2 linked regions of the Homo sapiens genome follow. The protein of the gene in region 1 interacts with the protein of each later gene in a biochemical or structural test. Each region holds a gene or a part of one and is shown in the gene's direction. Other genes may lie near its edges. The genes, in order: PRKG2 and MYLK.

Region 1 (16,090 bases):
TAATCCTCAGAACCTATGAAGATATGACCTTACATGGCAGAGAACTCTGCAGATGTGATTAAGGATCTCGAAATGGGGAGATCATACTGGATTATCTGGGTGTGTCAAGTGTAATCACAGCAGTCCTTAGGTGTGAAAGAGGGAGGCAAGAGAGACAGAGTCAAAGAGCTTCGAAGATGCTAAGCTGTTGGCTTTGAAGATGGAGGAAGGGGAGGGGCCACAACCTAAGGAATGTGGATGGCATCTAGAAGTTGGAAAAAGCAAGGCAATGGATTCTTCTCTAGAGTCCCCATAAGGAAAGCAGCCCTGAAACAATTTTTTTTTTTTTTTTGAGACAGTCTCACTCTATCACCCAGGCTGGAGTGTAGTGGTGCAGTTTGGGCTCACTGTAACCTCCGCCTCCTGGGTTCAAGCGATTCTCTCATCTCAGCCTCCGAATAGCTGGGATTACAGGTGCGCACCACCATGCCTGGCTCATTTTTGTATTTTTAATAGAGACGGGGTTTCAACATGTTGACCAGGCTGGTCTCAAACTCCTGACCTCAAGTGATCCACCCACCTCAGCCACCCAAAGTGCTGGGATTACAGGTGTGAGCCACCGTGCCTGGTCTGTAATACCATATTGATTTTAGCTCAGTGAGACCCATTTCAGAGTTCTGACTTTATGAACTGTAAGAAAATAAATTTGTGTTGCTTTAAGACACCAAATTTGTGATAATTTGTTATAGCAGCATTAGGAAACTGATATACCATAGGTCAAAGGAATGACAGAGGAAATGAAGACAGCGAGTGTGGATGTTGGGAAATTTGCGAAGGAGCAGTTATTACAAGATATAATGGAAGAAGCTCCTGCTTAATGTGGGAGAAACTTAAGGAACCAAAGTTCTTTAAGGACAGACAGGTGATCAAGAGCACAGGTAGAAGCACTGAAGTTAGACAGAATAATGGACGCCTCATCCTAAGGGGAAATGAGGGAGAAAAGGGTATATCTTGTGCAGACAGGCTTCTAGATTTTATGTAGGGACACTGAGGAAGTTCTTATTGATGAGTTGTACTTAATCTCTCTGTGCCTCAGTTTCCTTATTTAATAAATGGCTATAATAATAGTATCTCATAGGGTCTTCCTGAGGATTAACTGCATTAATGCATGTCAAGTGCAGTGCTCACATTCATTGTAAGGGCTCAACACAAATTATTGTAATTGTATGAGTTTGCTAGGGCTGCTGTAACAAAGTTTCATAGACCAAGTGTTTTAATGACAAATTTTATTGTCTCACAGTTCTAGAGGCTAGATGTCCACAATCAAAGTGTTGACAGCATTGGTTCCTTCTAAGGACTGTGAGGAAAGAATTTGTTCCAAACCTTTCTCCTCAACTTGTAGGTGGTTGTCTTCACATTATCCTTCCCATATGACTGTCTGTCTCCGTGTCCAAATTTCTCCTTTTTAATAAAGACACCAATCATGTCAGATTAATGTCCTTCCTAATGTCCTCATCTTAATTAATTAAATCTGTAATAATCCTGTATCCAAATAGGTCACATTCTGAGGTTCAGGGAGTTGTGATTTTGACATATGAATTTCAGGAGGGACACAATTCAATCCATAACAATTATTTGCTGTGAAGAGTCAGTGAGACCAATGACCATGAGTAAGAATGGTTAGATGAAGGTTTGAAGAAAGAGGAAAAGGTTTACCACATTCATTGTGGTAGAGAGAAATATAGCTGACCAGGTAAATTCAGCAAGATTACCAGGGAGCATTCAGTGCCCAGAGGAGATTGATATGAAGAATTCAGAGTGGTGTAAAACCCAAACTGCTTACCATTGCCTACAGGGCCTCATGTAATCTGGCCTCACTGTACCCTCTCTGAACTACATGGTATCACACTCCTCCATGTTCTTAGGTTCCAGCCCTGAAACTCACCAAGTTCTTTTGGCCTCGATATAGTTTGGCTGTGTCCCCACCCAAATCTCATCGTGAATTATAATCCTGGTAATCCCCACATGTCTAGGGAGAGACCTGGTTGGAGGTGATTGGATCATGAGGGCGTTTCCTCCATTCTATTCTCATGACAGTGAGTGAGTTCTCATGAGATCCTATGATTTTATAAGGGGCTTTTCCCTCTTTGCTCCTCCCAATCTGTCTCCTGCCACCATGTGAAAAGGTCCAAGTTTGCTTCCCCTTCACCTTCTGAAATGATTATAAGTTTCCTGAGGCCTCCCTAGCCATATGGAACTGCGAGTCAATTAAAACTCTTATTTATAAATTACCCAGTCTCAAGGAAGTTATTTATAGCAGTGTGAGAACCAACTAATATAGGCCTGTTGGCCATTGCACATGCTTTTCCTTCTGTCTGGCATATTCCTTCCTAGATCATCTTGTGGTAGGCTTTGTTTCATCATTTGGTCTTCACTCAAATGCTCCCTCTTAAGAGAGGTCTTCTGAAGACCACTTCTCAGAAGTAGTTTTCCATTCCCTTTTCTAGTTTTTCCTTTTCTCTTCTGTTATTTCTTTTATTAAAATACTCTACTCCCTAACGTTCTAATGTGTTTTTTGTATCTTTTTATTTTATGTGTTTATGCAAAATGAATAATGTATTTTGTGCATATTATCTTTAATTTATGCAAAGAATATTGTGTTTTATATCTATATATATCTCATTGTACTTCTATTTTCTACTAGATACTCTTATTTTTAAGGTATATCACTTTGCTTTGGGAACATCTAACTTGTTTCTAAGTATTGTTTAACATCCTATGGCATATAGCCATAGGAACTTACCTATTTACCCTCCCAGAGATGCATACCCAGGTGCCCTCTAGCCTCTAATCATAACAATAAAAAGGAAGTTGCAATAAACATCCTATGGCATATAGCCATAGGAACTTACCTATTTACCCTCCCAGAGATGCATACCCAGGTGCCCTCTAGCCTCTAATCATAACAATAAAAAGGAAGTTGCAATAAACATCCTAGTACATGCTCCCTTATGGACTCATATGGGAATTCCTCTAGGATATATGGTATACTCAGAAGTGGAATTGCTAATGGGCTGTATGTATTCTTAATTTGAGTAAATCATTCCAGATGGTTCTCTAGAATGGCTTTACCAGTCGAATCTCCTACTATTGACCCAGAATTTAAGTTTATGAGAACAGGACCTATATCTACCTTGTTTCACTAGTTTTTATTGTTTAAGTACAAGAGGAAGAAGTGGAATTCCTTCCTAATGGGGGCTTCTCCTGGCTATTGTAAGACGTAAGGCTGGGGCAAGGTACCAGTAGCATGAGATAATGCATTCCATACCCAACTGTGTAAGGAGCATAGTAAAGACAGTGAGGAAGTAAATAGAGGATCAAGGAACTAGAGGTCACTATAGGGCCAGAAACACATGAAGAGAATGTAATTGAACAATTAAGCTTGAAGGATGGAAAGTTGTTGTCACAGAGTATAATGCCTTATTTTAGTTTGGTTTCTCTAGAAAACAGAACCTAAGGTAAAGCTCACATGTGACACTCTATTTAGAATATTATCCTAGGGAAGCAAGAATGAGCAGAAACACAGAAATAAAAGAGAGAAGGAGAAAAAGCAGATTCAAAGTTGTGCATTACCAATTTGTCTACAGCTTCTCTAGAAAACAAAGCTGGTTGCTGAGTCATGCCAGAGTAGCCAGAAATACAGAACCATTGCATCTTTGAACAGCTCCTGGGTGGGCAGGAAGGGTGAACAATTTATTTGTTGTCTTCATCCTGGCTCCTGTCTCTCAGTGGTCAAAGTCGGCTCCACAGGTCATTAATTCCACTATATTTCTGGGTTGTGTTTTGGGCCCCTCCAGGCAGCAGTGAGGGAAGCCAGAGTTTCTGTGGGTTCAGTCAGGTCAGCCCAGGGGCCTGGAGCTGCTGATGCTCCCTCTACAGTGGGTGTTATGAAGGTCATGCTGGTCTGGCCCTGGATCCAAGGGAGGCCGAGGTCAGTGACAGCATTAAACTGGGCTTTAGGACCATGGGGACAACACCAGCCATTGCTTGGGCCACTCTGGCTGAGAAGCAAGGCAAAGGGCTGAAGCCCTGGAGGCAGGCAGGACTGTGCAGATCTGGGGTGCATATGCACTCACAGAATTGGTGATTTTAGAGGGATTTCCAGGTGTGACTATGGGAGTGATGGCTGAAGCTGAGATGGAGCTATTAGATATGGGAAGACTAACGAGTTGAGACGTTAAGTGTTGGATGGGTAGTCCAGGTTGACTCTGAAATAGCACAGGATGGTGGGATGCTAAATACTGTGAACCTAGTGCATAGTTAGTGTACACTGGCTATATTATTTGATGACTACCTATACCTAGAAAAAAAAATCACTATTTAGGAAAGTCAGTGTACCCTGGGCTGAAACTTATTATGTATAGATAAAACCAGAAGACCAAATTTATTTATATTTTGTACTTTTAAAGTAAATTTTACTATTACTTGATTGTCAATTGGACAGACTATTAATTTCTAATTTATATCATTATTTTAAACAATTGTCTATTCCAGAAGGAAAATCAAGAACATGTTCCAAATTCTTTCTACGGAACTTCAGAAACATAAGCAAAATTCTTCTGGATAACAAATCATGGCTTCCTATCAACTCTAGGATTGGACCTGCTGTGTGTGGTACTGGGAGAGATACAGCAAAGATAATCAAATGTGAACCATGCCCTCCAAGAGTTTACAGCTCTGTAGGAGAGATAAATGTAGTTAGGCACCAATAATACAAAGTAGAAAGTGATAAATACCACAAGAAGGGCTGAGACAAAGTACAGTGCTGGCAAGTTCTGGAAAAGGGGTGGACACCTAGAAATAATCAGTGAAGCTATGAGATGAGAGACAGAGAGAGAGAGAAAGGGAGAGAGAGAGAAAGAGAGAGAGAGAGAAAAAGAGAGAGAGAAAGAGAGAGAGAAGAAAGGGCTAAAGCCAGAATCCTGGGAAAATTTGGACTGGGTGGGAGTGGAAACAGATGATGGGGGACATTCAGAGAAAGCATGGGCAAGAGACTGTTCAATTCTAGATTGGGATCACACGAAGGCTCGGCTGCTGCTTGGAGGAGCTTGGAAATAGCCCAGATGTACCAGGAGTTAATGCCCATAACACTCTCATCCCCAACCGGGATCACTGGGAAGGCATTGGTAAATGACAGGCTACTGTCCCTTTGGAAAGAGGAGTAGAAAGAAGACTGATGCTTCCAATGCTAGGCCTGGAAGATTGTATGACATTATTGATGAGCTTCCACAGAGGAAGTAGAGGCACCACATATGGGGTTCACTTTCAAGTCTCTAGTATCTTAATAGACAGTTTTTTTTTTTTTAAAGAAGATAGTAGATTAAAGAGTGAAAATTTTAAATTATTTTTTAAATAATGAAGAGACTTGAGCTGGGTATGTTCTGGAGATATAAGCATTGATACAACAAAGTCCCTGCTCTGAAGTCTAATAAGGGAGATTGGCAAGTTAACAAGGATTTGTAACTTGGAGCACCATGTTGCTGTGGGGTCATGGGAGAGAAGCACTATCCTTCATGGTCAGCAAGACTTCATGGAAGAGGTATTGAGGTAAATAAAGGGATTGTGGGCTGCACGGAGCTTAGATAACATGAAAATTTGGGTGGATCCAATTGGCCCAGTTTTATAACCATATTGAGTGATGCTGGAACCTGGACAACAAAAGCATCAAAGGCAAATGGGATTTTCTCTTGGCTAGGGTTTGGCAAAACCAATCAGAAAGGAGGGCACTATGACTTGAGGTTCTAGCCTTAGCAACTGAAATGGCTGCTCATGGAGTTAGTGTGGTAGGATAAGGAAGCCTGAAGATAAATGAAAGAATAAAAGAGGGAAGGAAAGAAAACCAAAGACATGGTGAGAAAATGGAGTGTGAATCACCAGCATGGGAGTTTTGTCCCTCTTATGTCCCCAGGAGATTTTCTGCTGATCCATAGAAGGGACCTCAGTTGGGCCTTGGAGGGCTCCAAGCTGGAATTAAAGATTATGAGCACAAGGCTGATCTGATGGGGTGCCCTGACAGGAGTCTGTGTGCAAAGGTAACTATAGAGCCTCCTGTGTGGAAATTTATCCCAAGAAAATAAGATTGGCATGGGATGATCCTGAACTCAAATTGAGTCATCCAGGGGCTTGGGAGTCTGAATTAAGTATGGAAACATTACTGGATCTCTTCCTAGCTCAGCCTCTTGGATGCAGGTCCCTGCAAGAAACAGAAAGTGGGCAAAACCGGGAGGTTTCTGTGAAACACTTGGGCTGCTTGGGGACTTTTCTGTGTATAAAACAAGGGAAGACAGGCCTTTTATCATCCCCATTTCCATAGGCTACCTCTGAACTTTGACAATGTGAGAACTCTGGTGCTCTGGTGACAGTGCTTAGCAGAGACCAGGAGACCTAGTGGAGCAGAGGCTTACCTAGTAGGAGGAGGATTAGTCATGAGTATGTCCCACATCGCCCATGTGCTTAGATTAACATTGCAGACGGGCCTCTGAGGGGCCTGTGTTCTTCAGTCAATGGCAAAGAAAGGCCAGTGGATTTTAATTTCTCGTTGTCTTTGTACAGGTAGAAGAAGTCAAGATTTTAGGGTCTGGAATTATATAGACTGGCTCTGCAACTTATTAGCTCTGTGAATTTGATCAAAGTTACTTAACTCTCTGAGTTTCCTTCCTCAGGTGTGCTTACCTCCTCAGGTCAAAGGAGTAAATGAGAAATTACATGGAAGCCTTTAACTCATGACACAGAGTCCAACATCACAGGCCAGATTCCTTCAGCCTGAAGGTGCTTCCTCCTCACTCCCTGTCTCACTCTTACTCATCTTAAGTTTAAATGCCCTCCACTTTTTTTTTTTCCAGAGAGACATTATTCTTGAGCCCCTGTAGCAGACTCTAGATTGCCTACCCAGCATCCATTGCCACCCTCTCCTTTTTATTCGGGTATGCACTTCTCAAAGAATGCAATCGGGAAGAGTTAGGAACCAGTCCTGCAGAGCCTAAGAGGCTGGGAATGGTGATTCTCCCCTCCACCTCCAGCATTTAGGTGTGAGCACATGCTTAGTTTGGATTAATGACAGGTGAGAAGTCTCCTGGAAGCTTCCAAGAACGATTTCCCGACTCTGGAAAAGAGAATCTCTGTGACCTTTGGGCACTGTTGGGATTGCCCATAATAAATGGAGTTGTTCCAGTCATCCTGGGGCCATGGGTGGAGCAGCCCCAGGGGACAAAGCTGCCATACTGGGAATGGCAGGGGGAATAACGGGAACAGGCCAGGGCCTTCCCAGACACAACTGTGTTCCTGAATTCACCAACTAGAGCCTCCTGACCTTGGAACTTCTTGCCTTGTGAAACAGTAAGTTTCCTTATAATTTAAGCCATTCTAAATTGGGTTAATTATTAATTGCAGCCTCCCACATCTAAATTATAACCCCATATTTTTTTCTCTCATTTTCCTTCACAGTATTTCTCCCACATATGCTTACTTTTGTGTTTACTTATTTAATGTCTGTTTCTCTCACTGGATTGTACACTCTAAGTTGGCAGAGATCACAAGTTAATTTTGTTCACCATTGAATTCTAAGTATTTAGCACTGGGCCTGAGATGCAGGAGCTGCTGAAAGCACATTTGTTGAAAGACTGAATTAAAAGCTCAAAAAGTGGTCACTTTCCTTCTCTTCCTCCGTTTCCTTGTTCAGCATGGTAGAGTTGTAGATTTGACAGAGCATAGGATTGCTGGGAGGGAACTTAGGTTCCCCCTCAAACTCTTCCTAGCTGGGTGACCCTGGGCAACAGCCTGCACTGCATCGACAGCTTTCAAGCTTTTACCTCAATGAACGGTAAGAAAGTACATATGACCCAGTTGACCCAGTGTGCGTGCATACTCTGCTATTTTTTATTCTATTTGGTATCATTTTAAAAATGCTGGCTTTGACCCAGTACATCAATTTTATAATCCATTAATTAGCAACCCATTGTTTAAAAAAGCCCAGGACTCAATGAAATGTAAGGACTTTGCAGCATTATTCACAATAGCAAAATCATGGAGTCAACCTACGTGTCCATTAAGGGGTGATTGGATTTATAAATGTGGTTTTATATTATATATATACACATATATATATATATATATATATACAAAATATATACACACACACTATGGTGGTATACACACACATACACTGTGTACCTATCACCTGAAAAACTGGGAAAATTTTTTTTTGATTCAGGGGTACTACACACACACACACACACACACACACACACACACACACACAATGGAATACTACCCAGCCACAAAAACAATGAAATCATATCTTTTGCAGCAACATGGATGGAACTAGAGGCCATTATCCTAAGTGAAATTACTCAGAAACAAAGTCAAAAACTGCAGAATCTCTTATAAGTGGCAGCTAAACAATGGGCAGGCATGAGTATCCAGAATGGAATAACAGACACTGGGGACTCCAATAGGTGGGAGGGTGGGAGGTGGGTGAGGTAGGAATTACAACTTATTAGGTACAGTGCACATTATTAGGGTAATAGGTGCGCTAAAAGCCCAGACCTCACCACTATGTGTTATGTCCGTGTAATGCGACTGCACTTGTACCCCTGAATCTGAAATTTTTTTTTAAAGTGAAGACTTTGAAAATCTGTTTTTCTCCTTTTTGTCATTAAATCGCTAATAAAAATTCAGCCCATCAACTTAAAAGTCCATTATTACAGTGACATACAATTACTTATTTTCTCTTTTCTTGTGGAATTCTTCCTCACTCCTTTCTCCTCTAATTTTTTTTTTTTTGAGGTCTTTATAAAATGTACAGACTCTGGGATAGCTTCATGAAAAGGTACTTTGTGTACTTTCGCGATTTTCCTCCAGTTAGCACAAAAACAAACAGGACTATATTCCTCCTCCTCTGAAACTTAATGGTCTCATTCAACATATTTTACATGGGCCTCATTTTTAATATAAGTTTATGTATGTAACAGTGTATACAAATGTTACATGAGCCCCACTGCCACCATGTGGTTTAAAAACCCAAGAGAGTTGGTTGTAACATTCTCTAGATGCACAGTGAGGAATAGACCCTCACTATACTTTCCATCTCTCAACACAGAAACTGCCCTTGTCCTCCGTGAATTTGCTGGTGAAATTCCTCTGGGGGCAGAAGGAAAGGGAAAAAGCCACATGGAGATCTCACAACTCCAGAGCACAGCAAATAATGCGGTGGGGTGTACATATATATTTAGGAAACCATATTGCACCCTTCAGGAAAAAAAAATGTACTCAAAAGGTGACGAGAGAGCATTATCTTCTTGGGTGATCAAGAAAGCTCCCTTCCCAAAGACCTGCAGATTCGGAAGGTATAATCTCTGTCCCTCGAAACTCGATTCAACCCCTGCCCCCAGCATCACGTGAACTGGCAAACTAGATGTAAGTTATGGCCCCAGAGTCCGGGAGGGGCGCGTCGACGAGCTGCTTCGGGGTCACATGTCTTCGTAGAAAGGCATTGGTGTGACAGAGGAGGGCATGTCCAGGGTACGTGCGCCTGTTTGAGCTCTGGGAGGGAAGGCGAAGTGGAGAGAGCCTGCAGTGAAAACAGACTGGAAGGATGGAGGAAAGGGAGGGGAAGGAAAAAATGAACACCTCCCTGAACTTTCCTCTCCCCTCGTCCCACACACTTGAAATAGAAATAATAACATGAACAAAAATGCTTACAACCACGATGTTATCGCCCTACTTAAGTTGCCTCACTATGGAGGGTATGGGGTATAAAGTGCAGACTGCGGCTGTGTCGGGAGTAAAGGTTCGGGCTAGTGTGCGTGCGGGCGCGGGTGACCCCACCTTTAGGGAAGCCGGCGCCCAACTATCCAGGCAGTAGCCCCGGCTGACCCCCTCCCTCCTCCTTCCCTCCTCTCTTCCCTCCCTCCCTGCGTGTCTCCTCTGCACCGGCCCCCGCCGCGGAGCCAGGCGGCAGCACCGACGCCGCCGCAGCTCCTGCCCGCATCGCGCTAACCCGCGCCCCCGGCTCACACGTAGCCGGAGCGACTGAGCCGGCAGCCCCGGGCCCACGCTGCGCACCGTGTGCACGGCGGGGCTGGCTGAGCTGACCTGCGCTGGGCTCCGGCGCCGCAGGCGGCTGGGGAGGGCGGCGTGGGAGAGGACGCTGAGACGCAGGGGCGGCCGCGCCGAGGTGACAAGCTGCGCACCTGGAAAGTTACCCGGCTGTCTGGTGAGGTTCGTGGGCCGGGGGTCTTGGGCGCCGGGGTGTGAGGGCGCGCGGGGAGGGACGGGGTCGGGGTGCGCGCGTGTGCATGCTGTGAATGCGTTGCGCGATGTGCGCCTCTATTCCACACCCAGCCGGTCTCTTGCTTGTGCTGTTCGAGTGTGGACGTGTGTACGCGTTGCATTCGCTCGGTGTGGCAGCGTTTCGTGAGCTCCTGGAGGCAGGGAAAGGCTACTTGTGTTTAGAGGTTCTGTTGAGGGCGGGAGGGGCTCAGCCCCAGTGGGGAGTCCTCAGGGTTCTCTAGGTTTAGCGAGGAGAAGCGGTGGAGGCTGTTGCTCCGAGCTAGGGGCTTGGCGGTGCTGTCAGGGCTTGCGCTCCCGGCTTTGCTTCGTCGAGCTCTGGGTAGTTGCTAGGGGACAGTCCTCAGGCAAGGACTTTTAGGAGTCCTGGTAAACTTGTGTGGGTGTCCTTTTGTCACTCTGGGCACCGTGAGGCGCTTTCATATTTCTGTATTTCTCGGTGATGAAGAAACAAGAGCAAACAAAGCCCAGAAACCAGCCACTTTGGGGATGAGAAAAAAAGAAATAGGTTCAGTTCTGAGAAGAACTACGGTGCAACTACGAAGCAGCTGAGGCCAGAGCTGACAATAAAAGCAACGCATGCAGAATTAGTAGGTAGGAAGGGTGACGCTGGGACAAATGCCTTGATTTCCTGATCTTCATCTTGTTCCCCAAGTTCCCAGGGGCTTTTTCCTTCTTCTTCTTCTCCTTCTTTTTTTTTTTTTTTTTAAGGAAGAGAGCAACATACACCTGCCCCCACCCCACCACACCCCCATATTTAGAGTTTCTTAGAAATTGTCTCTTTTCTTTGCAAGTTTCTATTTAACTCATGAAGAAGGCGATCATCCCACATAACATACACTAGCTGTTTTCAGTACTCCTGTTTAGTTTTGCACAGGAGGGTATGAGCTAATATGGTAGAGAATTCTCTATGGAGAATTAGAGTGCATCCTCTCCGTTGGAACGCTGTATGACTAAGAATAAACGACCTGAAAAGATGATGCCCAGGGATCTTTCTCTTTTACGTGAAATCCTTAACTCCAGTTCTATGAAGTCATTACAAGTGAGGCTAATGAGAATTCACCTCACAGTGAAGGCATATGTTGCCTGGCTGTTGCCCAAGTCCTGTGATCCCTTATTGTCTTGCTTCCTCTAGGCTATTTTTCCTATGAATTATCTCTTCTTCTCCCATGTTTTCGTTTTTCATATCTCCTGTGCTTCATTATCCTGGAGCTACAGACATTTTCAAATTTTCATTATTTTAAAAATCCCTCACATGAATCATGATATCGTCTTGCAGGCTCTACTCTTAGTGTCAGCTCTTTCCATGGTCCCTTGTAGTTGAGTGTCTATCCCCACTCTTTGACAAATCAGATTCAGCACTTTTCTCTCTGATCTCATTTGCTGTGACAGGCCTGTGGGATGTGAGGTACAGCCTGCTCACCTCTTAAGGATCTTATCTGCATGGCCTTTCTGATGCTTCTCCTAAATCTCTTATTGGTACACGTGTTCCTTCTCCTTTGTGGTTTGCTTCTCCTCCTCTTCTCCCACAAATAATATCCACAGATATTACCTATATGTTCATAGGTAACAATAGAGACATTCCTTTCTTACCTCCCTTAGTGATCTCATCTACAAATGGTACTTCAAGTCTTCTATGGAGCAATCTCTTCCCTTGAGTTTTCTTTTTTGCTTCTACCTGCTAGACATTTGCATCATGATGACCCACAAGCATCTCAAACTCAATATATGTAAATCCAGACTCATTACTGTCTTTTCAAAGCATGCTCATTCTCCTGACTTCTGTCAGTGCCACAGTGTCTAGCCCATACACGGTGCCCTATGTGTTCTTTTTGAATGACTGAATGAATGAAGAGTAGATAGTAATACTTTCCTTCAAGCCTCCTAAGATCAAAACATTGAAATCATTTTGATTGCCCTCCCATGCACATCCATTTAATTACTACATTAGAGATGCTATCCTGCAGTGTTCCTCCTACTCACCCTCTTCTAATATTAATCTCTTCACATCCTCTCTCACTTTAACCAAAGCAGTACCTTCTTACCATATCTTACAGTTTTCTTTCCAACCTCATATAGACCTAGACACTCTCCTCTCCTCATCGCTAATATCCTGGGCACTTGCCTCCAATTCATCAACTTCAGCCTCTATTTATGTATCAATAACTGCTTAATATTTTCAGCTTTCCTCTTTCTTTAGCTTTTCTTGTCCCTCATTTCTTACTGCTCACTAAACTTCTCTACTTAAAGTTTCCACTGGTGCTTCAAACTGAGTATATCCAAAATTAAACTCACTGTCCTATCCCTCAAATCTGCTCCTCATTTTGGTCAATGACATTACCTTTTACCCAGTTGCCACAGTATAAACTTTCAAATCCTCATCGTCTTTCTTCTTGCCACCACTCAAAAATTCTGTCAGCTATAATCTTCTGACCTAGACTTACAGACCTACATTTCTGTGTGTTTGCTTGTTTATCTGTTAATGTAGCCCCCCAAATAGCTGAATTTGGCAGTCAAATATAGGATAGTGGCATTCATAAAATTCACCGCGAACATTCTGCTGGGGGGGTGGGAGGGAGGCACTTTAAAGAGATAACCAACCTCCAGAGTAGCTGCAACTTTGGTACAACAAGGTCATATGATTTCCTGTCAAGAGAAAGTTTTTCTCCAGCCAGGATGCTGTGGACAGAGAAAACAAGCAGTAGATTCCAAACTGAGCCCCGGGTCAACAGTCACAAGGTTGGATGGACAGATGCTTTTAATTGTGGCATTAATGTGAAAGTGAGCTGTTTCTCACAAGGACAACAACTCTGTGTGGTTTGCTTCAGGGAGAAGAATCAGGGATTTATATATTCAATTATTTTCTAAAGGAACTTTAGAGAGACAAGCTAATGGTAACATCAAATGTATCAGTTTCCTATCCACCTAGAATATTATCTGTAGAAGTCTGTATAATTCACTCCTCTGATTTCCAGCTGAACTGCCCATTATCATTAAAAAATCAATTCTGGTTTCCATGATTTATTGAAGGGAAGGACATTGCAGTGTTACATATAGCTGTAACTTTTATTGAATCTCATATGGCAATGTTTTTCTCTCTGGCTACCACGGAGATGGTCAATTTTTTTCTTGAGTTCAAGAAGTTCAAGTCATTAAATAGTGTTGGGACTCTGAGCTTTAATCCTTAAACTATCACCTCCTATTTGGATTGGTGCAATAGTATCTTCCCTTGTCTTACTTCCTCTAAGCTCTTTTTACTCCATTCCTTATTTATGAGAATATTATTTTCCTAAAGGACAAATCTGACCACATAACTAGAGAACTTAGTGTATCTTAAGATTCAGATACCATAATGTGGCGTAGGAAATTTTTCAGTATCTTACTTTTTCAGTTTCATTATTCATTACTCTCCTTCCATCCATCACACATTTCAGCCTGTCCCTTGACTGTGCTATCAGCTTTCTTGCATTCATTTCTTAATACATAATTCTTTTCTTAAACTAATAGACTTTCTATATTGTAGAAATTTTAGGTTTATAGAAAAATTGAGTAAAAAGCACAGAGTTCCTATATACCCACCTCTTAGCACTTTCCCCTGCTCTTAACATCTTTCATCAGTATGGTACATGTGTTACAAGTGATGGAACAAATATTGATGCATTATTATTAAAGTCCATAGTTTACATTGGGGTTCATTCCTTTTGTATATTCCATGGGTTTTGACAAATATATAATGAAATGTGTATATCATTACAGTATCATATTGAATAGTTTTACTGCCCTATAAATGTTCTTTCCCACCTATTCCTTTCTGTCTTTCCCCAAGCTCCTGGCAACCACTGATCTTTCTATGGTCTCCAAGTTTTGTCTTTTCCAGAATGCTATACAGTTGAAATCATACAATGTATAGGCTTTTCAGATTGGCTTCTTTCACCCAGCAATATGCATTTAAAGTTCCTTCATGTCTTCTTGTTGGCTGATATTGCTTTTATTATTGAATAATATTCTATTATATGGATGTGCCACAGTTTGTTTATCCGTTTACCTACTGAGGGACTTCTTGGTTGCTTTCAGGTTTTGGGAATTATAAACAAAGCTGCCATAAACATTCATGTGCAGATTTTAGTGAAAACATATGTCTCATATCAGTTGGGTAGATACCAAGAAGCATGACTGCTGGCTTGTAGAGTAAGAGTATATTTAGCTTTGTAAGAAGCTGCCAAATTGTCCCCTAATGTAACTATATCATTTTGTATTCCCACTAGCAATGAATGAGCATTCCTGTTGCTCCATATTCACACCAGCATTTGGTGTTGTCAGTGTCTTGGATTGTAGTCATTGTAATAGGTGTGTAGTGGTATCTCATTATTGTTTAAATTTGAGATTCCCTAATGACCTATGATGTTGAGTTTCTTTTTATATGCTTATTTATCAACTGAGTGCCTTGTTTGGTGAGGTGTCTGCTCAGATCTTTTGCCCATTTTTCAGTTGGGTTGTTTGTTTTCCTATTATTGAGTGTTCAGAATTAGACATATGTTTTAGAAGTACGTTCTCTCAGTCTATGGCTTGTTTTTTCATTTTCTTCTTTTTTTTTTCAGAGCAGAAGTTTTAAATTTTAATCAAGTCAAAATTGTCAATTTTTTCTGTCTATGAATCAGGCTTTTTGGTCTTTTATCTAAAAAGTCATCACAAAACCCAAGATCACCTAGAATTTCTCCTATGTTGTCTTTTGGGGGTTTTGTAATTTTGTTTCTTACATCTAGGTCTGTGATCCATTTTAAGCTAATTTTTGTGAAAGTTATAAGATCGGTATCTAGATTCTATTTTTTTAAAAATTAATGCCTAGTTGTTCCGGTACAATTTGTTAAAAAGACTATCCTTTCTCCATTGACTTGTCTTTGCTCTCTTTTGTATTCTTTGATCTTTGGATCAGTTGACTGTACTGTTTAGGTCTACCTCTGGGATCTCTGTTCTGTTCCATTGATCTACTTGTCTATTTTTTCACCAATACAACACTATATTGATTACCGTTACTTTATTAGTAAGCCTTAAAGTTGGACAGTATCAGTTCTCCTTCAATATTGTGTTGGTTTAGTACATGTTTTCAGTTCAATAAGTTTTTCCTCTAAGATAAATTCTCTTGTTGGATAAATAATGTTAAATGTAATAATAATAGTAATATTTAATATTTCTTAAACAAATACTATATGCTAATACCTGTGCTAAATTTTCATCATGATTTATCTCATTTAATCCTCTAAAAACTGTAAATGACAGGCAGCATTGTTTTGTCTATCTCTCTATGTTTCTATCTTTTTCTTCCATTATTGACACTCAAGTATCTTGCCTGAGGGAATATAGACCACTAAATGAAAGTGCTTCCACTGGGACTCTGGATCCATAACCTTAGCCAGCACCATACCATCTCCCATATTGACAGATATACATGTAGCTATACACACACATCTATATATGTGTGTGTGTGTTTGTCTGTGTATATTTATAACAGACTCCAGATGGGTAGAGAGAGAAATAGATATTATCTAGACCAGAGCCAAGATTCTGGTTTCAAACTGCTATAGGGCTGGAGGAAAAACAGAAAACAAAGCTTAATTCCTCCCACATTGACTGCCAGGTGTTAATCCGCCTGCAAGCGCCTTCACAGTCACTTTTGCTTTTCTTATGTCTCTTCTAATTACCCTTGGTGGACAGCAATTTCTAAATGGCGATTACATTAATATAATAATTTGTAGTCTTATGTAGT
Region 2 (15,656 bases), on another chromosome or scaffold:
CCCAATTTTAAAATGGGAAAAGGAATTCGATAGACGTTTCTCCAAAGAAGATACTCAAAAACAATGCTCCACAATTTTAGTCATTAGGGTAATGCAAATCAAAATTACAATGGACTACCACTTTATACCTGCTAAGTTTATTACTATCAAAAAATAGAAAATAATATATATTAATGAGAATATGGAAAAACTGGAACCCTTGTGCATTGCTGGTGAGAATGTAAAATGGTACAGCCATCGAAACAGTTCGGTGGTTTCTCAAAAAAGTTAAAAAAAATAGACATATGACTCAGTAATTTCATTCCTAAGTATGTTTTATTTTTAAAAGAATTGAAAATGGTCATTCAAACAATACTCATATGCCAATATTCATATTATGCATTATTCATAATAGCCAAAATGTAAAAACAACCCAAATGTCCATTAACAGAAGAATGGATAAACAAAATAATGCTAGATATGAATATTACTCAGCTATAAAAAAATGAAGTTTTGATATATTCTACCTGGATAAACCTTGAAAACATTACACTGAATGAAATAAGACAGACACAAAAGGATAAATATTATATGATTACACTTATATGGGGTATCTAGAATAGGCAAAATGATAGAGACAGAAAGTAGAATAAAGGTTACCAGGTGTTGGAGGGAAGAGGAAATGGGAGATGTTGCTTAATGTGTACAAAGTTTCTGTTTGGGATTATGACAAAAGTCTGGAAATAGATAGTTACACAATATGGTGAATGTACTTAATGCTACTAAATTGTATACTTTAAAAATGGTTAAAATTGGCAGGGCACGGTGGCTCATGCCTGTAATACCAGGTCTTTGGGAGGCCAAGGTGGGTGGATCACAAGGTCAGGTGATTGAGACCATCCTGAGTAATGTGGTGAAACCCCATCTCTACTAAAAATACAAAAAATTAGCTAGGTGTTGTGGCACGCACCTATAGTCCCAGGTACTTGGGAGGCTGAGGCAGGAGAATCACTTGAAACTGGGAGGCAGAGGTTACAATGAGCCGAGATGACACCATTGCACTCCAGCCTGGGCAACAGAGCAAGACTCCGTCTCAAAAAAAAAATGGTTAAAATTATAAATTTTGGGTTATGTATATTTTGCTACAATAAAAAAGTGAAAAAATTAACATGACAGGGAAGAGTTGTGAAATGGTTTGAATTTGTGTCCCCACCCAAATCTCATGTCGAATTGGAGGAGGGGGCTGGTGGAAGGTGATTGGATCATGGGGGTGGATTTCCCCTGTGCTGTTCTTGTGAAAGTTTAGAAAATTTGCAGCCTGACCATACGGTAGTAAAGAAAAACCCATTTTCTGGACAGAAAGTCAAGCTGGCTGCAGAAATTTGCATGAGTGGAGCCAAATATTAATATTGAAGACAATGGAGAAAATGTCTCCAGGGCAGTTCAGAGACCTTCACTGTAGCCCCTCCTATCACAGGCCTGGAGGCCTAGGAGGGAAAAATGTTTCATGGGCCAGGCCTAGGGCCTGGCTGCTCTGTGCAGCCTCAGGACATGGCACCCTGAGTCCCAGCTGCTCCAGCTTCAGCTGTGACTAAAAGGGGCCAAGATACAGCTCAGACAATTGCTTCAGAGGGTGCAACCCACAAGCCTTGGCAGCTTCCATGTTGTGTTGGGCCTGGGGGTGCACAGAAGGCAAGAGTTGAGTTTTTGGGAACTGATATGGTTTGGCTCTGTGTCCTCACCCAAATCTCATCTTATAGCTTCCATAATTCTCATGTGTTGTGGGAGGGACCCAGTGGGAGATGATTGAATCATGGGGGCGGGTCTTTCCTGTGCTTTTCTCAAGATAGTTAGTGGGTCTCACGAGACCTGATGGTTTTAAAAATGGGAGTTTCCCTGCACAAGCTCTCTCTTTGCCTGCGGCCATCCATGTAAGATGTGACTTGCTCCTCCTTGCCTTCCATCATGATTGTGAGGCCTCCCCAGCCATGAGTAACTGTAAGTCCATTAAACCTCTCTTTCTTCCCAGTCTTGGGTATGTCTTTATTAGCATATTAGCATTGTGAAAATGGACTAATACAGTAAATTGGTAACAGCAGAGTGGGGTGCTGCTGAAAAGATACCTGAAAATGTGGAAGCAACTTTGGAACTGGGTAACAGGCAGAGGTTGGAACAGTTTGGAGGGCTCAGAAGAAGACAGGAAAATGTGGGAAAGTTTGGAACTCCCTAGAAACTTGTTGAATGGCTTTGACAAAAATGCTGATAATAACATGGACAATGAAATCCGGGCTGAGGTGGTCTCAGATGGAGATGAGGAACTTGTTGGGAACTGGAGCAAATGTGACTCTTGTTATGTTTTAGCAAAGAGACTGACAGCATTTTACCACTGCCCTAGAGATTTGTGGAACTTTGAACTTGAGATAGATGATTTAGGGTATCTGGCAGAAGAAATTTCTAAACAGCAAAGCATTCAAGAGGTGACTTAGGTGCTGTTAAAGGCATTCAGTTTTATAAGGGAGGCAGAGCATAAAAGTTCAGAAAATTTGCAGCCTGATAATGCAATAGAAGAGAAAATCCCATTTTCTGAGGAGAAATTCAAGCCTGCTGCAGAAATTTGCATAAGTAACAGGAGCCAAATGTTAATCCCCATGACAATGGGGAAAATGTCTCCAGGCCATGTCAGAGACCTTTGTGGCAGCCCCTCCCATCACAGGCCAGGAGGCCTAGGAGGAAAACGTGGTTTCATGGACCAGGCCCAGGATCCCTGTGCTGTGTGCAGCCTGGGGATTAGGTGCCCTGTGTCCCAGCTGTTCCAGCTGGCTAAAAGGGGCCAATATAGAGCTTGGGCTGTGGCTTCAGAGGGTGCAAGCCCCAAGCCTTGGCAGCTTCCACATGGTGTTGAGCCTGCAGGTACACAGAAGTAAAAAATTTAGGTTTGGAAACCTCCACTTAGATTTCAGAGGAAGTATGGAAATGCCTGGATGCCCAGGTGGAAGTTTGCTACAGGGGCAGGGAAGTCATGGAGAACCTCTGCTAGGGCAGTGTGGGAGGGAAATGTGAGGTCAGAGCCCCGACACAGAGTCCCTACTAGGGTACTGCCTAGTGGAGCTGTGAGAAGAGGGCCACTGTCCTCCAGACCCCAGAATGGTAGATCCACTGACAGCTTGCACCATTCGCCTGGAAAACCACAGACACTCAATGCCAGCCCATGAAAGCAGCCAAGAGGGAGGCTACATCCTGCAAAGCCACAGGGGCAGAGCTGCCCAAGACCATGAGAACCCACCTCTCACATCAGTGTGACCTGGTTGTGAGACATGGAGTCAAAGGAGGTCATTTTGGAGCTTTAAGATTTGACTGCCCTGCTGGATTTCGGACTTGCATGGGGCCTATAGTCCCTTTATTTTGGCCAAATTCTCCCATTTAGAATGGCCATATTTACCCAATGCCTGTACTTTCATTGTATCTAGGAAGTAACTAACTTGCTTTTGATTTTACAGGTTTATAGGTGGAAGGGACTTGCCTTGTCTCAGATGAGACTTTGGACTGTGGACTTTTGAGTTAATGCTGAAATGATTTAAGATTTTGGCGGGCTATTGGGAAGGCATGATTGGTTTTGAAATGTGAGGACATGAAATTTGGGAGATGCCGGGGCAGAATAATATGGTTTGGCTCTGTGTCCCCACCCAAATCTCATCTTGTAGCTCCCATAATTCCCATGTGTTGTGGGAGGGACCTGGTGGGAGATGATTGAGTCATGGGGATGGGTCCTTCCTGTGCTGTTCTCATGATAGTGAATGGGTCTCACAAGATCTGATGGTTTTAAAAATGGGAGTTTCTCTGCACAAGCCCTCCCTCTGCCTGCTGCCATTCATGTAAGATGTGACTTGCTCTGCCTTGACTTCCACCATGATTGTGAGGCCTCCCCAGCCATATGAAATTGTAAGTCCATTAAACTTCTTTTTCTTCCCAGTCTCACGTATATCTTTATCAACAGCTTGAAAATGGACTAATTCATGAACCTCCACCTAGATTTCAGAGGATGTATGGAAATGCCTGGGTGTCCAGGCAGAAGTCTGCTGCAGGGGCAGAGGCCTTATGGAGAACCTCCACTAGGTTTGTGTGGAGGGGAAATGTGGAGTTGGAGCCCCCACACAGAGTCCCCACTGTGGCACTGCCTAGTGGAGCTGTGAGAAGCAGGCCACCATCCTTCAGACCCCAGAATGGTAGATCCACCAACAGTTTGCACCATGCACCTGGAAAAGCTGCAGGCACTCAATGCCAGCCTGTGAAAGTAGCCACAGGGGCTATACCCTGCAGACCCACTGGGGTGGAGCTGCCCAAGGACTTGGAAGAGCATCCTTGCATCAGCATGCCCTGGATGTGAGACATGAATTCAAAAGAGATTATTTTAGAGCTTTAAGATTTAATGACTTCCCTGCTGAGTTTTGGATTTGCATGAGGCCTGTAGCCCCTTTGTTTTGGTCAATTTCTCCCTTTTTTTTATTTGAGATTGTGTCTCCCTCTGTTGCCCAGACAGGAGTGCAGTATCACGATCTTGGCTCACTGCAGCCTCTACCTCCTCAGTGCAAGCAATCCTCCTGCCTCAGCCTCCAAGTAGCTGGGATTACAGGCACGTGCCACCACACTTGGCTAATTTTAAAAATATTTTTAGTAGAGACAGGGTTTCACCATGTTGCCCAGGCTGGTCTTGAACTCCTGACCTCAAGTAATCCACCTGCCTTGGCCTCCCAAATTGTTGGGATTTCAGGTGTGAGCCACTGCACCTGGCTGCAATTTCTCCCTTTTGGAATGGTAGCATTTACCCAATGCCTATATCCCCCTTGCATCTTGGAAGTAACTAAGTTGTTTTTGATTTTACAGGTTCATAGGCAGAAGGGATTTATTTGTCTCAGATGAGACTTTAGACTGTGGATTTTTGAGTTAATGTTGAAATGAGTTAAGATTGGGAGACTATTGAGAAGGGATAATTATATTTTGCAATGTGAGCAGGACATGAAATTTGAGAGGGGTTGGGGTGGAATTATATGATTTGGATTTGTGTCCCCACCCAAATCTCATGTTGAATTGGAGGAGGGGCCTGGTGAGAAGTGATTAAATCATGGATCATGGGGGTGGATTTCCCCCTTGCTGTTCTCATGATAATAAGTGAGTTCTCACAAGATCTGATGGTTTAAAAGTGTATGGCACTTCCCCCTGCATTCTCTCTTTCTCCTGCCACTATATGAAGAAAGCACTTGGTTCCCCTTCACCTTCTGCTATGATTGTAAGTTTCCTGAGGCTCCCTAGTCATCCTTCCTGTTAAGCCTGAGGAACTGTCAGTCAATTAAATCTCTTTTCTTCATAAATTACCCAGTTTCAGGTAGCTCTTTATAGCAGTGTGAAAACTGACTAATGCAAGTTGAAAGAAAAAGAAGAGCCAGATAAAAGTGAGTGAGGGAAACAGAGCCAGGAAATCTTAGAAGTCCAGCCACCATATATATTTTTTGACACTACTCAGAAACAACAAACGGGAAAGCTTTGTGAAGTTTGAAAAACTGTCTGGACCAAATCTCCTTTTAAAAGTTCAAGAAAACAAAATTCATGTAAAAATGATCAACAAAAAAAATACTAAGGTCAACTCTCATATAGCTACTACAACAAAGTGAATAAAGATCATAATAACCTCCAGAAAGATATTCTCAAAAAAATTAAAGCTATAATGTCCTAGAAAAGCTAATACACACTGAGTGACATGAAACATGAAAGAACAACATACATCAGAATTAGAGAAACTCAGAAATTAGAACAGAACTCACAGAAGAATTAAACGTTTTATTTTTTATTTTTTTTTGGAATTAAACATTTTAAAAAGCATTTGAGAAATAAAGATTGACCTATAAGGAACACAAGAACACATAAATATAACTAATAAAAACTTAAAAGAAAATAAGGTAAAAAGGAGGGAAATTTATAAACTTAAAAACAAATGAAGAAAGAAATTAAAAAGATTTAAGGGAAAGTGACAAATGTTGAAGATAGACAAAAAAGGTTCAATATGCAGATAATAGAAGTCTCCAGAGAAGCAGTCTAAAGCAATCCAAAACAGAACAAATATTTAAGACTTTAATTGAAGAAAATTTTCCTGAAATTAACAAAATATATGTATTTGAAACCACATTTTGAAAGAAATACACACTGTTTACTTTCAAACTAGAATGACCAACAAACATTCTAATAAAATTACTGGATTTGAAAGAAAAAGATAAAGTTATTTGGGCATCTAGGCAAAGTGAGAAGGTGCCGTCTACAAACCAGAAAGAGGGCTCTCAACAGATACTGAATCTGTTGGAGCCTTGATCTTGGACTTCCCAGCCCCCAGAACTATAAGAAATAATGTTTCTTGTTTATAAGCCACTTATTTTGTGTTTTTTTTTTTTGTTGTTGTTGTTATAGCAACCCAGCTGGACCAAGACACCAAGTAGTTTGAATCCAACAAAATTGACCTTCAAGTAAAATGGCATGAACAAACTGTAAGCAACATGCAAGAACTCAGAGCATATTCTTTCCATGAGCCCTTCCTAAGGAATCTAGTAGAGGACAAGCTTTCAGACAACCAAAATGACTAAAGATACATAAACATAAGGAACTAATGGTAAGCATTAAATATATATTTGAACTTTAATTAGGATTAGAATTGTAGAACTGTAAAATTAAGACTAAATTAGGGTTAAATAGGAAGATTATGGTATAGATGGCTATAGAAGCTGATAATTTAGATAGAGTATAACTATAAAAGATGGATAGCATATGCAAAAAAAACTGTTTTCAAGAATCAAAACTGATGATGGTAGTATTAATATTGTTATTCTGAGATTATTATTATATGTTTAATGCAAACTAAAGCAAATTAGTAAATTGGGATATTCTAATTTCATCCTCCCTTTTGTCCTTGAGAACCAGAATTCTCTACATGAAAGAAAAGAGGTCCTAATGTAATATATGTTAAGTAAAAACTACAGTCCTGAAATTAAATTGGAAATAATATAAACTGATGAAAATATTATGAAGAATAATATTTCTCTAGAATATAAAAAAATGAAGTATTCTTTAGTAGCTCTGTCTATTGAAAAGGCCTAGAAACAGTTACCAACCTAGTAACAATGAATACTCCTAGTGCTCATATTGTTATCTTAAAATTTCAACAAAAGAAACTAGAGCTTCTGGCCAGGCGGGGTGGCTCATGCCTGTAATCCCAGCACTTTGGGAGGCCGAGGTGGGCAGATCACGAGGTCAAGAGATTGAGACTATCCTGGCCAACATGATGAAACCCCGTCTCTACTAAAAATACAAAAATTAGCTGGGTGTGGTGGCACGTGCCTATAATCCCACCTATTCAGGAGGCTGAGGCAGGAGAATCCCTTGAACCAGGGATGTGGAGGTTGCAGTGAGCCGAGATCGTGCCACTGCACTCTAGCCTGGTGACAGAGTGAGACTCCATCTGAAAGAAAAGAAAGAAAGAAAGAAGGAAAGAAGGAAAGAAGGAAAGAAAGAAAGAAAAAAAGAAAGAAAAAGAGAGAGAGAAGGAAGGAAGGAAAGAAAAAACAAAAAAACTAGAGCTTCTTGGAGAAATGGCTGATTCCAGGTTTGAGGCAGCAAATGTACAGATGTGCCTGGAACATCTTGTCATATCAGATAGCAAGGAAGCTATCAAAGACTTCTAGGGTCTTTGAAGCTCTTTGCACACTAGTGAGAGAGAGAGAGAGAGAAAAAAAAAAAGACTACTAGAATCTTATCAAAAGGAGCCAGGAGCCATATTGAAGAAGCTCCTACTGGCCAAAGATGGGACAATTTGAGCTCTAATATCGTAGATGGAAACCTATCAAATATATTTAAATTCATGAATTTATAATGATATTAAAGAAATCTAAGAATGACAGAGAATCAATTCCTTAACTTGAAAACTGGGTAATTTTTTTAAAAAAAAGCAGGTATTCATCGTGCCTTTCCTATCTCAGGGTAATCAAATAGTAGATGAGAGGAAGCATCTCCTTATCCACTTATGAACTAATAAATGAAAACAAAATTATTAGAATACCATGATTTTGCAAACTTCAATTAATTAATGAATCTAGGAATTGAGCATCGACGGCTGTTAACCTCAAAAAAGAGCAAACACCAGACATCATGATCATGTACCTCTTGAAGAAAAGAACACACAACCATCTATAATCTTACAAAAGACATCAAACTTCAGTCTGAGGAAGACCCTGGATCAGCTGCCAACTTGCTGTCAATACAGAGGACAGAGAAACATGCTGAATTGCCTCATGAATGTGCAACCCCCAGACTCTGGAAAACCTCACAGATCAAGGGCTTAAGTTATTTAACAAATAATTGTAAGGAAAAGACTGAAAAGGCAAATCAAATTAAAAAAAAAAAGAGTGGGGGGAGGGGTAAGGTGCACCCTTGGAAGATACCAAGAAAAACAAAAGCAGCAGAAGTGACTACATGAAAGTCAGGTTAGTGGTTACTTTTGGGAGGAGGGAGAAAGGGGGTTGTCATTGAGGTAGGGCACATGGAGAGGCTCCTGGGGTGGCTGGCAGAGTTCTATTTCTTGATCCAGGTGGTGATTACAAGGATGTTCCCTTTATAATAATTCACTAGTCTATATATCTATATATTTGTTTTTTGTGGTTTTCTGTATTTATGTTTTATTTTACAATTAAAAAATTTTTAAAAACACTCCTTAACCTGCAGTAAACAGTTTTTTTAAAAAAAACAAAAGAAGGTCCAAGTGAAGAGATCAGAAGCTATAAAATATTTCATATTGGGTGCAAACTAAATATAAAGCAAGCCAAAACCAGAAACACCTCCTCCCCCTCCCCTCCCCCCCCTCCCCTTTCCCCTTTTTTAATTTAAAGAACTTTGTAGGTATCTTCCAAACCAATGAGAGATTCTTAACACACACAAAGGGAGGATGTCAGAGGAACCATGGGGCTGAGTTGCACCACTGGAGGATGTCTGAAAAAAACTACATAGACAACCTTCCAGCACTAAAACTTTAGCCCCATGGTTCCGCTGACATCTTCATTTTACAGATTAGAAAACTGAGGCCCAGAGGCAGCCAGTGTCTCATGCACGCTCACGAAGCTAGCATCAGACCCCGACCTAAGGCCTAGGTCTCCCAGTGTAGGACTAAGACACGCACCAAGACAGTACCAGCCCGCTGACCGCCGCCTGCGAGGAGTTAACTGGGGCGGTGCAGGATAAGTGCGAGGGGGGCCCGGGTCTGGCGCTAGGTTTGGCTGCGGATTCTCCGCTCCGGACTCCGAGGCAGAAGGCGGGTGGGCGTGGCGGGAAGGGCAGCAGGTCCACTCCCCGAGCGCTATGCAAATGTCATGCAAATCAGTGCATGGGGGCTGGAGCGGGTGGTTTGAGTCCTGACCCCGTAGCGCCGCGCTCTCACTCGCTCTCCTCAGCGCGCGTCCGCTCTCCGCTCTCCCACTTGCTCTCTCTCTCGCCGGTTCGCTCACCCCCGCCCCGCCCCGCCCCGCCCCGCCCTGCCCAGTCCCGGACGCGCCTCGCGGGCTCCCCGCGCCGCCCGGTCGGCAGCAGGGCGCTGAGCGAGCTCGGAGCCCGCGCTGTGCGCCTGCGGCCGGGGCGCCCCGCCGAGCGCCGGTGCCCCGGCTCCCGGGCCGCCTTCGCCGCGCGGGTGAGTGAGCCCGCCCCATGCTTTTGTCCAGGCGCGGGCCCTGGAAGTCAAGGCTCCGAGGGTGGGAGTTCTGGGTGGGGGCTGGGACCCCCACCGTCTGTGCCTCCCGACTCCCCTAATGGAGAGGGGCCCCGGGGTGCGGCGAGGAGTCAGGGGCGTAAGGAGACGACCCCAGTGACGCCAGGCTGCACGAGTTTTCTTTTGGGGAGATGAAGTGCTTGGGGACACTGATGCGATTGCCTTTCTAGGAATCATCCGAAGGGGGTGCCTTTGATTTGAGGGGCGGAGGAGAAGCGGACCCTTCTCCCAGCTCCCAGACCCTCGCTAGAGGACTCGGTGACGGCCTCTGGGAAGGGGGTGCCACGTGAAGGTCCTTCCAGCCCAAATGTGATTCCGGGAAGGTAGGGCGGGGAAGGCGGCCCGCGAGTGCCAGACCTGGCCATCCCAGGCGAAGCTGGGGCGCGGGCTTTGCAGACTTGTTCCTACTCCATACTCCTCATTTAAGCTCCTTACCTCGCTCTGCCTCCTTCGCGTTAACTGGGGTCCCATTGTTGAGGGACCTTGTTCGCCGATGATTGCAGTTGGAAAGTTTTGGATAAACTTCTCAGGAGATGTGAGTTGTCAATGGTTGAGGTAGACCCCTCCCTGGAACTTATGGAACTAAAACCCTTCAAGACCCAAAGGACTGAATTTCTAGGAGTGGCATTGCAGATGTGAAGATGGGCTGATGGGGAAATGGTTTCAAGGATATATATTTTTTTTAGATTGGGGTGTGTGTGTTGGGGTGCGGGGCACTTTCTATTTCGTAGCCAGAAGGAGAAGACCCAGCTCTACTAGAGTCTAGAGGGAGTAAAATTAGCTGTTGTGATTCAGGGAGCTGGGTGGGTGTAGGGAAACACCTGGGCAGTGGGCATGATGCCAGACCTCAGGCCGTTGGTTTTTACCATCCCTCCTCTCCCCAAGTGCAAAGACCAGAGTATATGCAATGACCCGCCCACCCCACAGCCTTTGAGAGCCTGCCCTGGAGCTGCATCCCCCTTCCAAGAGAGGCTGTGTTCTTCTCCACCTGAATGGAATACTTTTTGTCAAAATGCACTTATCAATAAATTATTTCCAGATGGTGGGCTTAGGAGGACCATTTGGGGAACCCCGCCCACACTTCAAAGAATCAGGAATCAACAATGCAAGTCTCTGGGAGAAGTGTAGGTGCATCTGGTGACTTTACTAGGTTCCTACAAGGCATTTAGGGTTCTAATAGAACTGTTTTCTTTTCTCTTAAATTCTTGACCTCCTTCTCTCTTCCGTGATTCTCTTAGTCTCTTCCCCGCCTGCACACTGTGGGACTGTGGAGGATGATGCTGCTGGCACCACAGTGCTCTAGGGCAGCATGGAATTTTCCTTCCTGCCCAGAGTGAGGTTACCCCTTTTTCTCCCACTCTCAGTGGGCCAGGAGCCTTGGGTCTGGGAGGAACCTGAGCAGTTGGTCCTGGGTCCGGAGTGGTTGGACTCTGGATGCTGGATTGGGTAGCGGGTACTCTGGGGACATGCACAAGAGCTTTTTTTGCCAAGATGTGCAGGTCTGTCTCATTGTTCACTGATGATACAAAGGATGCTGGACCTCATTTGCAGCTAAGCATGAGCTTGGAGAACCACCCCACAGTGGGGAAGCATTTATGCTGGTTTATCTCCCATGTTCAGTTTCTTTTGTGTAATAACTGGCTAGCTGAGGAGGAGGGTAGCTGCAGCATTGTAGATGTTTCCTTGTCTTATTTTTATTTTTATTTTTTATTTTGAGACAGGGTCTGGCTCTGTTGCCCAGGCTGGAGTACAGTGGCGTGATCTCAGCTCACTGCAACCTTGACCTACCAGGCTCAAGGAATCCTCCACCTCAGCCTCCTGAGTAGCAGGGACTACAGGTGTGTGCCACCACACCTGGCTAGTTTTTTGGATTTTTTGTAGAGATGGGGTCCTACCATGTTGTCCATACTAGTCTAATGGGCTCAAGTGATCGCCCACCTCTGCCTCCCAAAGTGCTGGGTTACAGGCATGAGCCACTGCACCCAGCCAGAGTAGTTGCTGTTTGTGTGAGGTTTGCTCACCCCTTCATCAGGGGCTGCTTCCCCAGGGGCCAGATCTTAGAAAACATATGCAGAGCAGACTAGGCCTTGGAACATTCCTAGGCTAACTGGTAAGGCCAGGTGGCCCCACCTGCTGCCTGAAAATGGTAGACAGACAGCTACAGTCACTGCAGAGGAGGGGCTCCTGGCTGGCAGGTGGCGGGGGTAATCTGCTGAGAAGGCTTGTCAGAGAAGGAGGTGACCCAGATGGTGCAGAGGGGAGAGGCCTTTGAGTTCCAAGGGTGGGGAAAGGTTCTGGGTCTCTGGCTAGGGAGATCTTTGCTGGTCTCAGAGGCATAGATTGTGAATGCGCTGGGGTCACCATATACTCAGTGTCTTTGAGAATGACCCCTTGCTTTTATCCTCAAAATATAAGATGAGCCTAGAGTTTGAAACACAACTAGTTGGCTTGTCTGTCTTTTAGGAAGTTCATAAGGTGGGGTGGGGGTTTCAGAATGCAGCCTTGCTTGGGGACATGGGTACAGTGTCCCATGAGTATGGGGTGTCTTATTTAGTATCTTTCTGAGAACAATACTTGGGAGTCTGGAAATATAAGCCTACTTGGAAGCCCAGCTGCACCTCTCACAGCTCAAACCAACCCACACAGGCTGGGAGATTGTTCATTCTTAAAAGCTTCCTGTCCTGTCTTTTCAGCAAATGTAGTAAAATTTAGAAACAACACTTAAAAAGTATCCTTTCCCAACAAAAGACAATGTCCTCGCTCAACTTGGCCAGCAGAGGGTGCATGCAGAGGACATGAGGCAGGGCCATTTGCATGGAAAATGTCCATGTGGATGCTTAGGCCTGAGCAGGGTCTATTGGGTGGCCTGAGTGCTCAGAATCAAGGAACCGTCCAGCAGTGAGCCAGAGTGGGACAGAACGATGTCACTGTGATGAGCTCCTATGCCATGTGACTTCTATCTCTTCCCTGTGCTCCCCCAGCCTCCTACCTTACAAGCAGGCAGACATGGTTGTGCGGGGAAGCAGTGCCCATACAAGCCACGCCCCTCTCCCACCTGCACCATTCTGCAGATGGATTCTCTTTATTCTTCCTTGAGTTTTGGCTGCACACTTTTCCATTCGTTTGATGCCAACAGGTTGAGCAAATGCATTCCCCTCACAAACTCAAGGTGGGTGGACCTCCGTATTTGCACTGCGGGCCAACAGGTGCATCCCTCCTCCTTGTTGCATGCACCTGGTGTGTGAGGGCTGCAGCCCCCATGAAATTTACTGACAGCCAGCCCAGTCAGCTGGGGCAGGAGGAGAGCCAGCAACAGTTGCTGCCTCATGGGCTGGAAGGTAAGGCTGTGTTTCCAGATGCTCCCACCACCTTCTTTTCCCTGCCCTCCTGCTCACTGTACTTCAGTGTCTGAGGGTGAATGGGCACCCCACTAGGGAGCTGTGGAAATTTTTGTGTAGATCCAGCTTCTTAGATTTCCCACGTTGTCCCCATCCCCCCTCTGTTGGTACTTCCTTGCCCCCCTTCCACCCTCTGCTCCTCTCCTTCCCTGGGTCTTCAGTGCAGAGCCCTCTGGAGACAGAAAGCCCCTTTGGAGACAAAAGAAAAGGGATGAGGAGAGGATTTCCTTTTCTTTCAGACCTGCTTCTTGATTTTTTTTCCCTTGGCTCTGGGCGCTCAGATCTGATGCTAATTTGTTAATCCAGGACCTTATGGGTTATTTCTCATAATCTTTGGGGGAACCGAACACCTGCAACTTGGGGCTTTTATAGTTGAGGATGCTGTTTACCTTTCTTGTTTTCAGAGATGAGGATTTCTGATGTATAGTAGGTCTCATTCAGGTTTCTGGCAGGAGGAGGCAGCCAGGCAGAATGTGATCTTTGGTGTTAAACTTGGGTTCAGTTCCATCCCATTCACTTACTGGCTGGGTGTTCTTGGGCATGGGTTTTAACCTCTGTGAGCTGACTTGAGTTTTGTCATCTGACAATGAGGGCGGTTATAAAAATTAAATGAATATAGGAATATAAATAGGCACAAAACAAAGAATAGCTTTTATTATATATACCGGGCAGTGTTCTCCAGGTCTATATAATGACTTGTAAATCAACCAGCAGACACTAATGATGTCTACTTTCTATTGAGCTCTGTAGAGGCTTATAAAACAAAGGTAAATGTGGGCCAGGCACGGTGGCTCACGCCTGTAATCCCAGCACTTTGGGAGGCCAAGGCAGGTGGATCACAAGGTGAGGAGATTGAGACCATCCTGGCTAACGCGGTGAAACCCCGTCTCTACTAAAAATACAAAAAATTAGCCAGGTGTGGTGGCGGGCGTCTGTAGTCCCAGCTACTCGGCTGTAGTCCCAGCAACTCGGGAGGCTGAGGCAGGAGAATGGCATGAACCCAGGAGGCGGAGCTTGCAGTGAGCCAAGATGGCGCCACTGCACTCCAGCCCAGGCGACAGTGTGAGACCCCGTCTCAAGAAACAAACAAACAACAACAACAAAAAACAAAGGTAATGTGTCTATGCTAAGAGACTCTGGGTGGGTAGCAAGAGAGCTAACACATAGGTAATTAGAAAACAGGGACAACATGCAATTTCCAAGTTTCATTAACAGAATTAAAGGATGACAAGAAATTCAGGGGCTAGAGTGATGCAGGAAGGCCTCAAAAATGGAGAGGAGGAAGGGAGGGTAAGCATTTGCCAGGAGAGAGGAAGGCAGGAACATTTGGCTCCGGTGTCTGAAGGCTGTTAGCTCCTTCCTTGCTGGGCCCTGGCACAACACCTTTGACCTTGCAGCGCACTCCCAAACATGCAGGTGTGCTTGTCCTGAGGTTTATTTTGGGGGTGGTTTTCATTCTGGCCTTGTTTTCCCTCTGCTGCCAATAATATTTCTGAAACATCTGAAATTGTTTTATTTTATACTCGATCAAAAATATTAAGAGGCAATTGGGTGGCCAGAGTGAAAGCCCAGAGGCCCGTAGAAGACTTTTGGGTTTCTGGGGCTTTGTGTTCTCTTTTCATGCCTCATATATTGTAGCTCACTTCCTAGTTCTGGAATCACAGGGTGTTAGGACTAAGGGTCAGGTCCACTTGACCTTTGCATTGGACTGAAGAGGAAACTCTGGCCTAAGATGCCAAGTGGTGGCTGGGCACCGTGGTTCACGCTTGTAATCCCAGCACTTTGGGAGGCCAAGGCGGGTGGATCACCTGAGGTCAGGGTTCAGGACCAGCCTGACCAACGTGGTGAAACCCCATCTCTACTAAAAATCCCAAAATTATCCAGGTGTGATGGCAGCCTCCTGTAATCCCAGCTACTCGGGAGGCTGGGGCAAGAGAATCACTTGAACCCAGGAGCAGAGGTTGCAGTGAGCTGAGATCATACCACTGCACTCCAGCCTAGGCAACAAGAGCAAGACTTCGTCTAAAAAAAAAATCCAAGTAGTAGAGCCAGCATCAGCCAGAGTTCTCATCACTACCTATCCTGGTGGAGGATGGTGATGGCATAGGAAGGTGAACGGCCTGACATAGGCAGGAAGAATGGATACACATTGGTTCCCTCATCTGCCCACCTGCTTCTCTAGAGTCCTTTAAGGCTGTCCTCTTTAGTCTGAGGGTCCAATGGGGAGCAGGAGTGAATGTCCTACCTTTATCTGGCCTGTGATCACTGCCATCTGTCTGCTTCAGGGCCCCTGGATACCGAGTGCTGTTCCCCTTTCCTGGGGTCAGACTACATGGAATGTCATCTGAGGCTGTGGGAAACACCAGGAAGATGCCCCGGGTTTGGGGGCTAGCTTCAGCACTGTCTTCTGCTATGTGACGTGGTATCTCCAGGTCTCAGATTGTGCACCTTTAAATGGACAGAGAAGCCCTTCTCTACTCATCTGATGA

What was found.
Region 2: of the proteins of PRKG2 (region 1) and MYLK, one has a biochemical effect on the other in vitro, tested with the Homo sapiens proteins (one study listed by BioGRID).

Annotation. Positions count from the first base shown.
Region 1 is NC_000004.12:81,209,098-81,225,187, reverse strand, and holds the start of PRKG2 (cGMP-dependent protein kinase 2), read left to right. Parts: upstream 1-9,965; 5' UTR 9,966-10,252; exon of another isoform or gene 10,253-10,920; intron 10,921-16,090. UniProt on the Homo sapiens protein: Crucial regulator of intestinal secretion and bone growth. Phosphorylates and activates CFTR on the plasma membrane. Plays a key role in intestinal secretion by regulating cGMP-dependent translocation of CFTR in jejunum.
Region 2 is NC_000003.12:123,878,241-123,893,896, reverse strand, and holds the start of MYLK (myosin light chain kinase, smooth muscle), read left to right. Parts: upstream 1-9,564; 5' UTR 9,565-9,691; intron 9,692-15,656. UniProt on the Homo sapiens protein: Calcium/calmodulin-dependent myosin light chain kinase implicated in smooth muscle contraction via phosphorylation of myosin light chains (MLC). Also regulates actin-myosin interaction through a non-kinase activity.